3 linked regions of the Homo sapiens genome follow. The protein of the gene in region 3 interacts with the protein of the main gene of each other region in a pairwise test. Each region holds a gene or a part of one and is shown on either strand. Other genes may lie near its edges.

What was found.
Region 1: the proteins of SMAD6 (region 3) and RPS6KA5 interact in a two-hybrid assay, tested with the Homo sapiens proteins (one large-scale study listed by BioGRID and IntAct).
Region 2: the proteins of SMAD6 (region 3) and CHRM5 interact in a two-hybrid assay, tested with the Homo sapiens proteins (one large-scale study listed by BioGRID and IntAct).

The regions. Positions count from the first base shown.
Region 1 is NC_000014.9:90,899,942-90,903,672, forward strand, and holds part of RPS6KA5 (ribosomal protein S6 kinase alpha-5), read right to left. Parts: intron 3,029-3,731; coding exon 2,867-3,028; intron 796-2,866; coding exon 670-795; intron 301-669; coding exon 167-300; intron 1-166. UniProt on the Homo sapiens protein: Serine/threonine-protein kinase that is required for the mitogen or stress-induced phosphorylation of the transcription factors CREB1 and ATF1 and for the regulation of the transcription factors RELA, STAT3 and ETV1/ER81, and that contributes to gene activation by histone phosphorylation and functions in the regulation of inflammatory genes.
Region 2 is NC_000015.10:34,062,401-34,065,362, reverse strand, and holds part of CHRM5 (muscarinic acetylcholine receptor M5), read right to left. Parts: intron 2,721-2,962; 5' UTR 2,646-2,720; coding exon 1,047-2,645; 3' UTR 1-1,046. UniProt on the Homo sapiens protein: The muscarinic acetylcholine receptor mediates various cellular responses, including inhibition of adenylate cyclase, breakdown of phosphoinositides and modulation of potassium channels through the action of G proteins.
Region 3 is NC_000015.10:66,778,736-66,782,235, reverse strand, and holds part of SMAD6 (mothers against decapentaplegic homolog 6), read right to left. Parts: intron 1,240-3,500; coding exon 701-1,239; 3' UTR 1-700. UniProt on the Homo sapiens protein: Transforming growth factor-beta superfamily receptors signaling occurs through the Smad family of intracellular mediators. SMAD6 is an inhibitory Smad (i-Smad) that negatively regulates signaling downstream of type I transforming growth factor-beta.

The sequences.
Region 1 (3,731 bases), on a different chromosome or scaffold from region 3:
TCAATTAGAGCTAAAAGTATAATGGACCAACTGATGAGCCAAGTGGTTAAACCTTTGGGTAAGAAAGTCTTACAATATAATACTGGTTTCAATTAAAATAAATATCTTTTAATTTACAGAATTCATGAATACCTAAGAAAGAATATTATATTAAAAATGGTCATACCTTTTGCTGATTATTTTGACTGCAAAAGCTTGGTTACTTTTTTTATGCACACACTTTCGACAAATTGAAAAACTACCTTCTCCCAGGGGTTTGTCCTTCAAATCTAGGTCATAGTGTTGATAGAATGGAGAGTCCTGTCAAGAAATCAACATCATTTAACTTCAGAAAATGTCAGTAATACACAAAGGATCAATAAAATTGTAGAGTAAAATAAAATTATTAATATTAATAAACAGGAATAGAATACATTTATAATCTAAAATTCATCTTTATAGGTAACTTCTATTTTCATCTAAATAATTATTTAAGATACATAATTCTCTATAATTGTAAAAAGAAGTTCATTCAACTTGACGTTAATTCTCTAGGGAAAATATTGCTATATCCCACTTTTAAAATTGCACTTTAGTTGAATTACTAGACTTAAGAACATTAATTAGAGTTGGTATTTAAACACTCACAAAACCTACAAATATGTCATATAAGTTACCACATCTATATACCTTCATCATTGCACTCCTGGCAACATTTGTCACTCCAGGACGTTCAACTCCCATGTGAAACTGAAGAGGGTCTATGACAGCTGCATTACGCTTGAATAGGATGGAAGGAGCAACAAAGGAATAGCCCTAAAAACAAGACAAAGAAAGATAAAGAAAAACAACTTGCAGTTTTCCAGTTTAACACAGATTAGATTGTAATGACTTTTTTTCCTTAGAAAAACACTCAAATATTTGTTGAGATGAGTCTAATTTTATTTTATTTGCAATCTAAAATGCAAGGTTATTTCAAATCATTTGAAAAATGCTGTTCAGAAGGATATAATGCCATCTTCTGGTAGAACTAAACCAATTCAAAAATAAAGGTAGAAAAAGACTTCTTCCCTATTCCACCCCCAAAATCAGACTCATAGATGAAATTCTCCTGGTTTGCTGATGAAATTTGTTTACAAACATAACTAACTTCTCAAAAAAGGATACAGTCAAGGTATTAAACAAAGTGGTCTTTTTTTTTTGAGATTGAGTCTGGCTCTGTTGCCCAGGCTGGAGTGCAGTGGTGCGATCTTGGCTCACTGCAACTTCTGCCTCCTGCGTTCAAGCCATTCTCCTGCCTCAGCCTCCCAAGTAGCTGGGATTATAGGCACATGCCACCATGCCTGACGGGGTTTCACCATGTCTCGAACTGGTCTCAAACCCCTGACCTCAAGTGATCAACCCACCTCGGCCTCCAAAAGTGCTGGGATTAAAGGCCTGAGCCACCAGACCCAGCCACAAAGTGGTCTTTAAATGCTATTGTTTTTCAAACTGGAAAAATGGCAAGTCTCACTAAAGTTAGTTTCTAATTTAGCAATTATTTGATTCTTATTAATATCTTCAGAATAATTAAATTTAAAATTGAGTTTTGGAAAGGAACAAAGTCTAATGGCAGAATGATGCTCTGAGCTAAGTGGTACAAAGACGGATGATTAATCCGTTCAAGCTAGAACATTCACTAATCAACAAACATTTAAAAAAATGTTCAATAAGTGCCCAGTCACATACTAGACAGTGATAAGCAAAGAAGAAAAGACACCGTCTGGATGGCCAGATTAAGCCATACTAAAGGTATACTTATAGAAGTCAAAGAAGCAAAGCTCTGATGCCATTTAATAGTTAGAATATTTTATCTTGTGTGACAAATGCCCTTTTCTAAATATAAAATCTAAATCTTTTTTTAACAGCAGTTAAGATTAATTACTGAAGGTAAAGAATAAGGTAACATTGTGAACTAAAGAATGTTTTTATATGGGGGTTGAGGGGCACGGTGGCTCATGCCTAGAATCCCAGCACTTTGGGAGGCCAAGGCAGGAGGATCGCTTGAGGCCAGAGTTCAAGACCAGCTTAGGCAACAAAGTAAGACCCTGTTTCTACAATTTTTTTTTAATTAGGTGGGTGTGGTGGCATGCACCTGTGGTCCCAGCTATTCAGGAGGCTGAGGCAAGAGGATCCCCTGAGCCAAGCAGTTAAAAAGGCTGCAGTGAGCTATGATCATGCCACTGCACTCCAGCCTGGGTGACAGAGTGAGACCTTGTTTCTTAAAAAAAAAAAATTTTTTTGGCTGGACGTGGTGGCTCATGCCTGTAATGCCAGCACTTTGGGAGGCCAAGGCAGGAGGATCACTTGAGGCCAGGAGTTCAAGACCAGCTTAGGCAACATAGCAAGATCCTATCTCTGCAAAAAATAGAAAAATTAGCTGGGTGTGCTGGTTTGCACCTGTGGTCTCAGCTATCCCAGAGGCTAAGGTGAGAGGATCACTTGAGCCCAGGAGTCTGAGGCTGCAGTGAGCTAGGACAGCACTGCTACACTCCAGTCTGGGCATCAGAGTGAGACCCTGTCTATATAAATAAAAATTTTTAAATATGAATAGAGGTAAAATAAAAGATTATTGTATTTTCTATAAAAGAATCTGAACAAAAATAAAATTTCAGGTATAAAATTAAAACTTCCCTTATATCAAAAATAAATGCATAAACAATATCTGCTATTGAGCAAACTATAAGCTTCGGTTAACAATGTGCAATATTTCTGCATTTAATAATTTAGAGGATATTAGAGAATCCCATTTTTATGATGCCAACAAAACTACTTCAATATGGGAAATTTAATCTTTTCTTTCAAAGGACATATGGCCAATGTGCATGTGCACAGGATGGGAAATTACCTGAAACAGCTTCTCAGAACTCTGGGGCAGGGCTGCGGGAGAATAAGTGGGATCCATTTCTGTGAACTCTTCTGCAAAGTTACTCACATCTAATTCATCTCGAATGACTGGCTTAAATGGTGCAGGCACTTTTTTGGCGGCTAAATCATCCCAATTTATTTTCTAAAACAAAGAAAGTTGGTACAAAGTAGAAATCAATAGTCAAAATGTACTTTCTAAGAATAACAAAGATAAATTAGGATTTTGACTGGTAGGGAGAGAGGATAAAAATAAGAGAACATATTTCAAATCAATAATAAAAAACATATTTTCTCCAAACAAGATCACAGCAGTTTATAGCTCCAACCAATGCTGTGCCTCAAAGATGAGACTATCGCTGTTGAATCTCAGAGTGTCCTCTGGGGGGCACCAAGACACCCTAGTTTACCTTTAAAGACAACAGAAGAATACTTTTGTCCTGAGCCTCCTCAGAAAGGTGTTAAGCCAAAAAGAAAACAAAAAACCCAAAACAAAATAAAAAACTGAAATAAAGGGTTTCCAAAGGCTCTACAGATGTGGATATTAGCTCTAAAAGAATGTTCCTATTTTCTAGAGGCAGTGTTACTTAGCTCTCTGCCTGCACTTGCTTTTCCTCCTGGGCATCCAGACAGACTGGAAAATAAATCCACTGTAAATCAGGCATGTGCTTATGTCTAGAAGTTCAAATGATACCATCATATGGATGTGATCACTCTTTTCTTATTCAACTGTGTTCAAGCATTTTAAACACTGCCTCTTATGTCCCCCATAGAATAATGCAAGCCCCTTTTCCCTCTAGGTCACTTACTGAGTTATATTACTGAAATCCAACCCTTTGCTCTGTTTC
Region 2 (2,962 bases), about 33 Mb from region 3:
GCTCTGGAAGAAATTCAAAAGCAAATCTGTTTTCCACATTTTGCTCAGGTTTGCCCTGTGAAGAGATTAGAAAGCAAGATCTCTGAAAACAATATAAGAACCTTAATTCAACAGCCTGGAGAAAATCTTCAGCCAGTGAAGGGCTCTTACACAATTAGTCTTCCTAAGAACAGAGCATAAATAAATGGGTTCAAATGGGCACAAAATAGAATGCACAATATCTGTTTAGATAAAAGAAAAAATTTCCACTGGCAAAAACTAAAATAACTGACTGTGGAGACTTGATCCATCTTTATTAGTAGAAAAGAGGCCCCTTGAAAGGACTGGGTATGACCAGGTTTCAGTCCTTCCAGACTCTGGATTCTGAGAGGAAGGATGGTTCCCTGGAGATCAGCATGGGTTCAGTGAGTACAAGGAATTGACATTGGATATGAAAGGGAAGAGCAAGACCTTCACTCAGATGTGGGGACAGGAAAACAAACCACAGTATAGTATAGACCACATAATAGCTGCATAATAGATAGTGATCAGTTTATGAAGATACATATTCTTAGAAGCCTGTTGAATATCAGTCTCGTTAACAAGTGACACTGTTGTACATTCTCCTGCTGGTTCTCACTGGCACAAGACAGCTTCATAGACACATACATATTGCACAAAATTCTATGACAGGTTTCCACAGGAAAAGGTTTCCACCTGGTCTCTGCTGTTTCCTACAGAAGGGGCATAAGTTCCCTGAGTCACTGTTCATTGTTACCCAGTGTGCTTCCTCTTGTGAAGGGCCATGAGCCTATCCCTTTACTTCATTGGCAAACTCCCCTGGCATCAAATGGCCTTGGTCATAGGCAAGAGTCATTTAATATGTCAGCAATTGCTGCAGCTATGGCCCCTTCCATTTGGCAACCAAACTTGAGCCTTTACAAAAATCTTCAAGGACTCAAAATGAGATGTCTTCTTTTTGAAAATATACAAACCAGAATCAGCTTGCTCATCCTCAGAGGATGTTGACTGTGGTCATTGTTCTTTCGAGAGGAGTTGTTGACTTTTCAGGGTAGCTTGCTGTTCCCCTGCCAGTACAACTTCTCTTCCACTTTTTTCTTTTTCCATCGGCAGAGAAGCAGCATCTTAAAGGTCTTCCTGAAGGTTCTGTTGCAGAGGGCATAGCAGATGGGGTTGACAGTGCTATTGACATAGCACAACCAATAGCCCAAGTGCCACAGGGTGACTGGGACACACTTGTCACAGAAGGTAGAAACCAGGACCATGATGTTATACGGGGTCCATGTGATGATGAAGGCCAGGAGAATGGCACTCAGTGTCTGGGCTGCTTTCCTCTCTTTGACTAGGACCACTCTCTTTCGTTTGGTCATTTGATGGCTGGGGTTGGGATTGAGGCCTTTCGTTGAAGGTTCCTTGGCCACTGGGAAGGGGCAGGGCATGATTTTCACCTTGTGACAGCCATTGTTGGTCTCCTGGTTCCCGTCAGCTTTTACCACCAATCGGAACTTATAGGCCACACATTTCTGACTCTTGGGTCTATGAGCAGCTGCTGGAGACAGAAGGTAGTTTGGGGTGTCATAGTCACTTTTTTCAGTTTCAGCTTTCACAAAAGTTTCCTCAGTCTCTTCAGCACTGAATTCTTCCCCTGGGCTTTCCTTACCCTGACTCTTGTAGACCACTTGGAGGACAGGGTCAGTGGCGGGCTTGTCCTCATCCTCTGAGGAAGGGTAGCTGCTACAGGTGGTGAGCTGCTCAGCTTTGGCCCAATTGGCGCTTGGGCCAGTGGCTTGGGATGGCTTCCCAGTGGTGGAGGTGCTCCTGCGGGAGGATGACCAGGAGGCCTGGTTCCTTTCCCGCTGGGCCAGGGTGGGTCGAGGACAGCGCAAGCAGGATCTGAACAGAGCCCTATGAGCTGGCTTTCTCTTCTCAGCTTTGGTCACAGAGTCAGAACCCTGGAGGTCAGCCAGGTCCTTGGTTCGCTTCTCTGTTTCCCGGTAGATTCGACAGTAGAGGATGGTCATGACAGAAACAGGGATGTAGAAGGCAGCAATGGCAGTGCCAAAAGTGATGGTGGGCTCAGAGAGAAACTGGATCTGGCACTCATCCAGTGGAACTGTCCGCTTCCCAACCAAGTACTGCCAGCAGAGGATTGCTGGGGCCCAGAGGATGAAGGAGATCAGCCAGGCCAAGCCAATCATGATGCCAGCCCTTTTCGGAGTACGCTTGGCCCGATATGTCAAGGGTCTTGTGATGGAAAAGTAACGGTCAAAACTGATCACCAGAAGGTTCATGACAGAAGCGTTGCTGGCCACGTAGTCCAGTGCAAGCCAAAGGTCACAAGCCAGACTCCCGAGAGCCCAGCGTCCCATGAGGATGTAGGTGGTGTAGAGGTTCATGGAGAAGATTCCAATGATGAGATCTGCACAGGCTAAGCTGAGCAGGTAATAGTTGTTAACTGTCTTGAGCTGGCTGTTGACTTTGAAGGAGATCATGACCAAGACATTGCCCACAATGGTGATCAGGCTTACCACAGCAGTCACAGCTGCAATGGTGATGACTTCCCACAACCTGTGGCGTTCCAAAGGCTGGTGATTTACTGGGGTGCCATTGACGGTGGTTGCATTGTGGTAAGAATCCCCTTCCATCCTGGTGCAAAAATTTTACAGTAAATAGTGTTAGGTTCTAGGCTGTTTTCTATTTCAGCTCTTCTTGGCCAGCATCTGGAAGAGAGGGAAACACATTAGCTTCGCACACCAGCATGATTTTCTTGTCCATCCATTGTTTATAGTTTTTTTTTTTTTTTTTTTTGAGACAGAATCTCGCTTTGTCACCCAGGCTGGAGTGCAGTGGTGCGATCTCAGCTCTCTACAAGCTCCGCCTCCCGGGTTCAGGCCATTCTCCTGCCTCAGCCTCCCGAGTAGCTGGGATCACAGGCTCCCACCACCACGCCCAGCTATTTTTT
Region 3 (3,500 bases):
TTCTTTTCCCCACCGCCATCCCTATCCACTGGACACCCCATAGCCATGGGCAGGAAGGAACAACAGAACTTTCTCTGGTTTACTTAAGAGTAAATGTGACTTTCCTCCCTTTTCAATTTGTTCTGTCTTTATCCAATAAAAGTAAAACTTGAAAACTGAGGTCAAGTTTCAAGGTACATGATGGGTCAGAAATCCGCTGAAGCCCTACCTGCCCCTCTTTGTAAAAAGAAGACAGTTTAAAAAAAACTATAATGCGAATACTTTATTATCGAGTGACTGGTATTAGCTTTTTGTCTGGGCATTAATATCTCAAAAACCATACACCAAACCCAGGCTTTTCCACCTAGCTCTGCTGTATCATTTTCTTTATATATATATATAAAAAGTAAGGAAGAGGAAGGAGGAAGAGAAAGAAAATATATCTGTATTGAAAGAATTATAAGCCAAAGTGCGTCTTTCTTGTTTTGTCCATATACACACATTGCACCATACATAAATAATTACATTGTAAAAATGACTCCATAATTACAAGTATAATATATATTTCCATATAATATATAAAACTTTATATTAAATCTAGGTAGATGATATCTGGGGGGTTTTGTCCGTGGGGGCTGTGTCTCTGGGCATCGGCCCCTCTCGAGGCCGGCAGGTGGCGGTGGCCGCGGCCTCCCACCCGCCCCTCCCGCCGGGGCCGCCACTATCTGGGGTTGTTGAGGAGGATCTCCAGCCAGCAGGGGCAGGAGGTGATGAACTGCCGGGAGTAGCAGGGCCCCCAGCCCTTGGCGAAGCTGATGCGGACGCTGTTGGGGTCGTAGGGGCCGTCGGCGGCGTCGGGCTCGGGCGCGTGCTGCAGGCCCGAGCGCTCGAAGTCGAACACCTTGATGGAGTAGCCGGGGGGCACCTTGCGCACGACCAGGGCGCGGCCGCCGGGCGCGTCCAGCGTCGGGGAGTTGACGAAGATGGGGTGCTCGCCGCGGTTGTAGGCCCACACGCCGTCGGGCTCCTTGCTGAGCAGGATGCCGAAGCCGATCTTGCTGCGCGTTCGCCGCACCGACTCGCTGCGCTGCTCCAGGTTGAGCTGGCCCAGGCAGAAGCCGCTGCCCTGAGGTAGGTCGTAGAAGATGCTGACGGCCTGGTCGTACACCGCATAGAGGCGGCCCACGCGCGTCCGGTGCTCCCAGTACGCCACGCTGCACCAGTGGCTCGGCTTGGTGGCGTCCGGAGACATGCTGGCGTCTGCGGGACAAGCACAGGGACCGCCGCGTTATTCTGGGTGGGGAGGTGGGAGGCACCGAGGAGCGGAGGTGGGCACTGCTGTCTGCACAGTGGGAGCTGGGTAAGGTTTCCAGCATTCAGCAGTCATGTGGGCACCGTGTGCCAGGTTGTCCTCAGGAAATATGGCGCACAACGGGACATCTCTTTCACACACACAAGCTCACACAAAGGAGAAAACAAAGGTTATGAGCCACAGAGTGCAAGCCAGAGAGCACCTGTTGTGTGCTAGATGCTGCGGACGCAGACATGAACCATGCACACCCTGCCCCTGCCTCTTCATGCTAGCAGGAGAGACAGACAACTGCCTGCACGCCCCCAAAGGAGGGGCTGACTGTGGAGCAACCATCACGGACCCGGCGTGGAGCACTGTACTTCTTACTCTTCACAGCACACAGGACTCACTTGGTCCTCACGATCACTCTGCAAGGACGCCACCTTCTCCTCGTTCTACAGAGGAGGGCACCCCGCCAGAATTTGAACCCACTAGTCCAAGTCTCAACCTGACAGAGTAGGGTTAGGCTATTGGGGGATGGCGGGGGAGGTTGAAATCACATTAGAGGACTCAAGCACAGGGAGGCGGGCTGGGGGTGGGAGGAGTTGCCCCCAGGATCCCTTCCGGCCTGGAGCAGTGGGATTCCTGTGGTGGCCTTGTTATAAATATGACTGCTTGACTGCTCCCTGACTCAGCCTTAGCCTCCTGGTACCGCCCACCTGAGTTGGCTTTCTTGGCAGGAAATGCAGGTTTGTACCAGAACTGCAGCTACTTCTGCATGGCAGAGGAGCTGAGGGTCCCTAAATGACAAAGAAAATGGCTCCTTAAGGGCTCTGGAGCTGCCCAGCAATTGAAGGTGTGTGCTGCTCCTCTCTGGGCCTCAGTTTCCCCACTGTATAGCAAAGGGGTAGCTAAGATGTTACTGAAATCCCTTGTCACTGACTCGGGCCGTCTGTGTGTCTGGAGGAGTTTAACAATTTTCTGAGACCAAAGTTCAGACCAACACAGGCCAGGGTGCTCCCTGCTCTCATGTGGCCAGCTTCTCAGATTCTGACATCTGGCCTTTCCTTTGAGCTCACAGCTCTGAGAAGCAGGCAGGCACCTATAACTGCCCAGTGAGGTGACATGATTTGCCTGCCATGCCTGCTTCCACACAGGTCTCTGGCCTGGGCCTGTGCAGAGGGAGGCGTTCTGCTGGAGGCTTGACAGAGCAAAGCAAAGCAATTCATGGCTCTTTTTCTGAGGAAAACTGATCAAAGTCCAACCAAATCCCAGAGGACAACACTTCTAACAGCTTCACCTGGGAGCCTGAGTGAGGCCAGCTCTGGACGCCTTTGCCTTGGTCTTGCCCCTGCCTAGAAGCCCCAGAAGAACAGGGTGGCAGGGCCCCTGACATCCCCTTACACACTGGGAGGCCCGCCCAGCCACCCAGCAGGAGGCTGTCTGCCTCAGGGGCCTCCTGGAGGCTGACTGCTCTGCTGTGGCTTTGGGCTGGATACAGGTTTCATGAGTGTGCCCCTTGTCCTGGGCCTGGCACTGAGGTCCCAGACACAGGTCCCCAAGTCTGCTGGGGGGTAATCCAAGTCCTCACACCAGCCCGCAGCTTGGATCATTTTGCCTCAGAGTCTCCAGTGAGGCCTCTGATGCTTCCAGCTGATGGTCAGGAGAGGAGGAAGAGGTCCTGCATCCTGCCCTCGACAGAACTGCCCCTTAGCCAGTGGGCAATAGTGACAGAGACAGCTCAAGCCCTTGGGAGGTCACTAGGCTGCAAGCATCAGGCCAGTCCCAGCAGGTGGGCAGCTGGGAACAGCCAGACTCTGAGCTCCAGCCACCCCACTCCAGTGCCCCTCTCCCCAGCCACCCCACTCCAGTGCCCCTCTCCCCAGCCATCTACCTGGCACAGGTCTGGGAGTCCCCAAGGGCCAGAAAAGCAGCACCATGCCAGCCTAGCCACGAAACTGCAGCACCCACACTGCCCACCAACCAACAAGAATTCCACGAGTGTGTCAGGCACAGCAAGGTGGGGATGCAAAGAAGCGATGCCTGGAGTATGCTGGGAGACAGGACGGGCAACGGCATCCATGAGTGCCTTCTACGAGCTGGGCCCGTTCTTCACAACAGCCTCATCTCACCTCTACTAGCAGCCCATTCCACAGGTGAGGAAACTGAGGCCCAGGGTATACACCAGTGAATGCTGGGGCCGCCTTGGTGCTAGGCCACACTCTAGAGG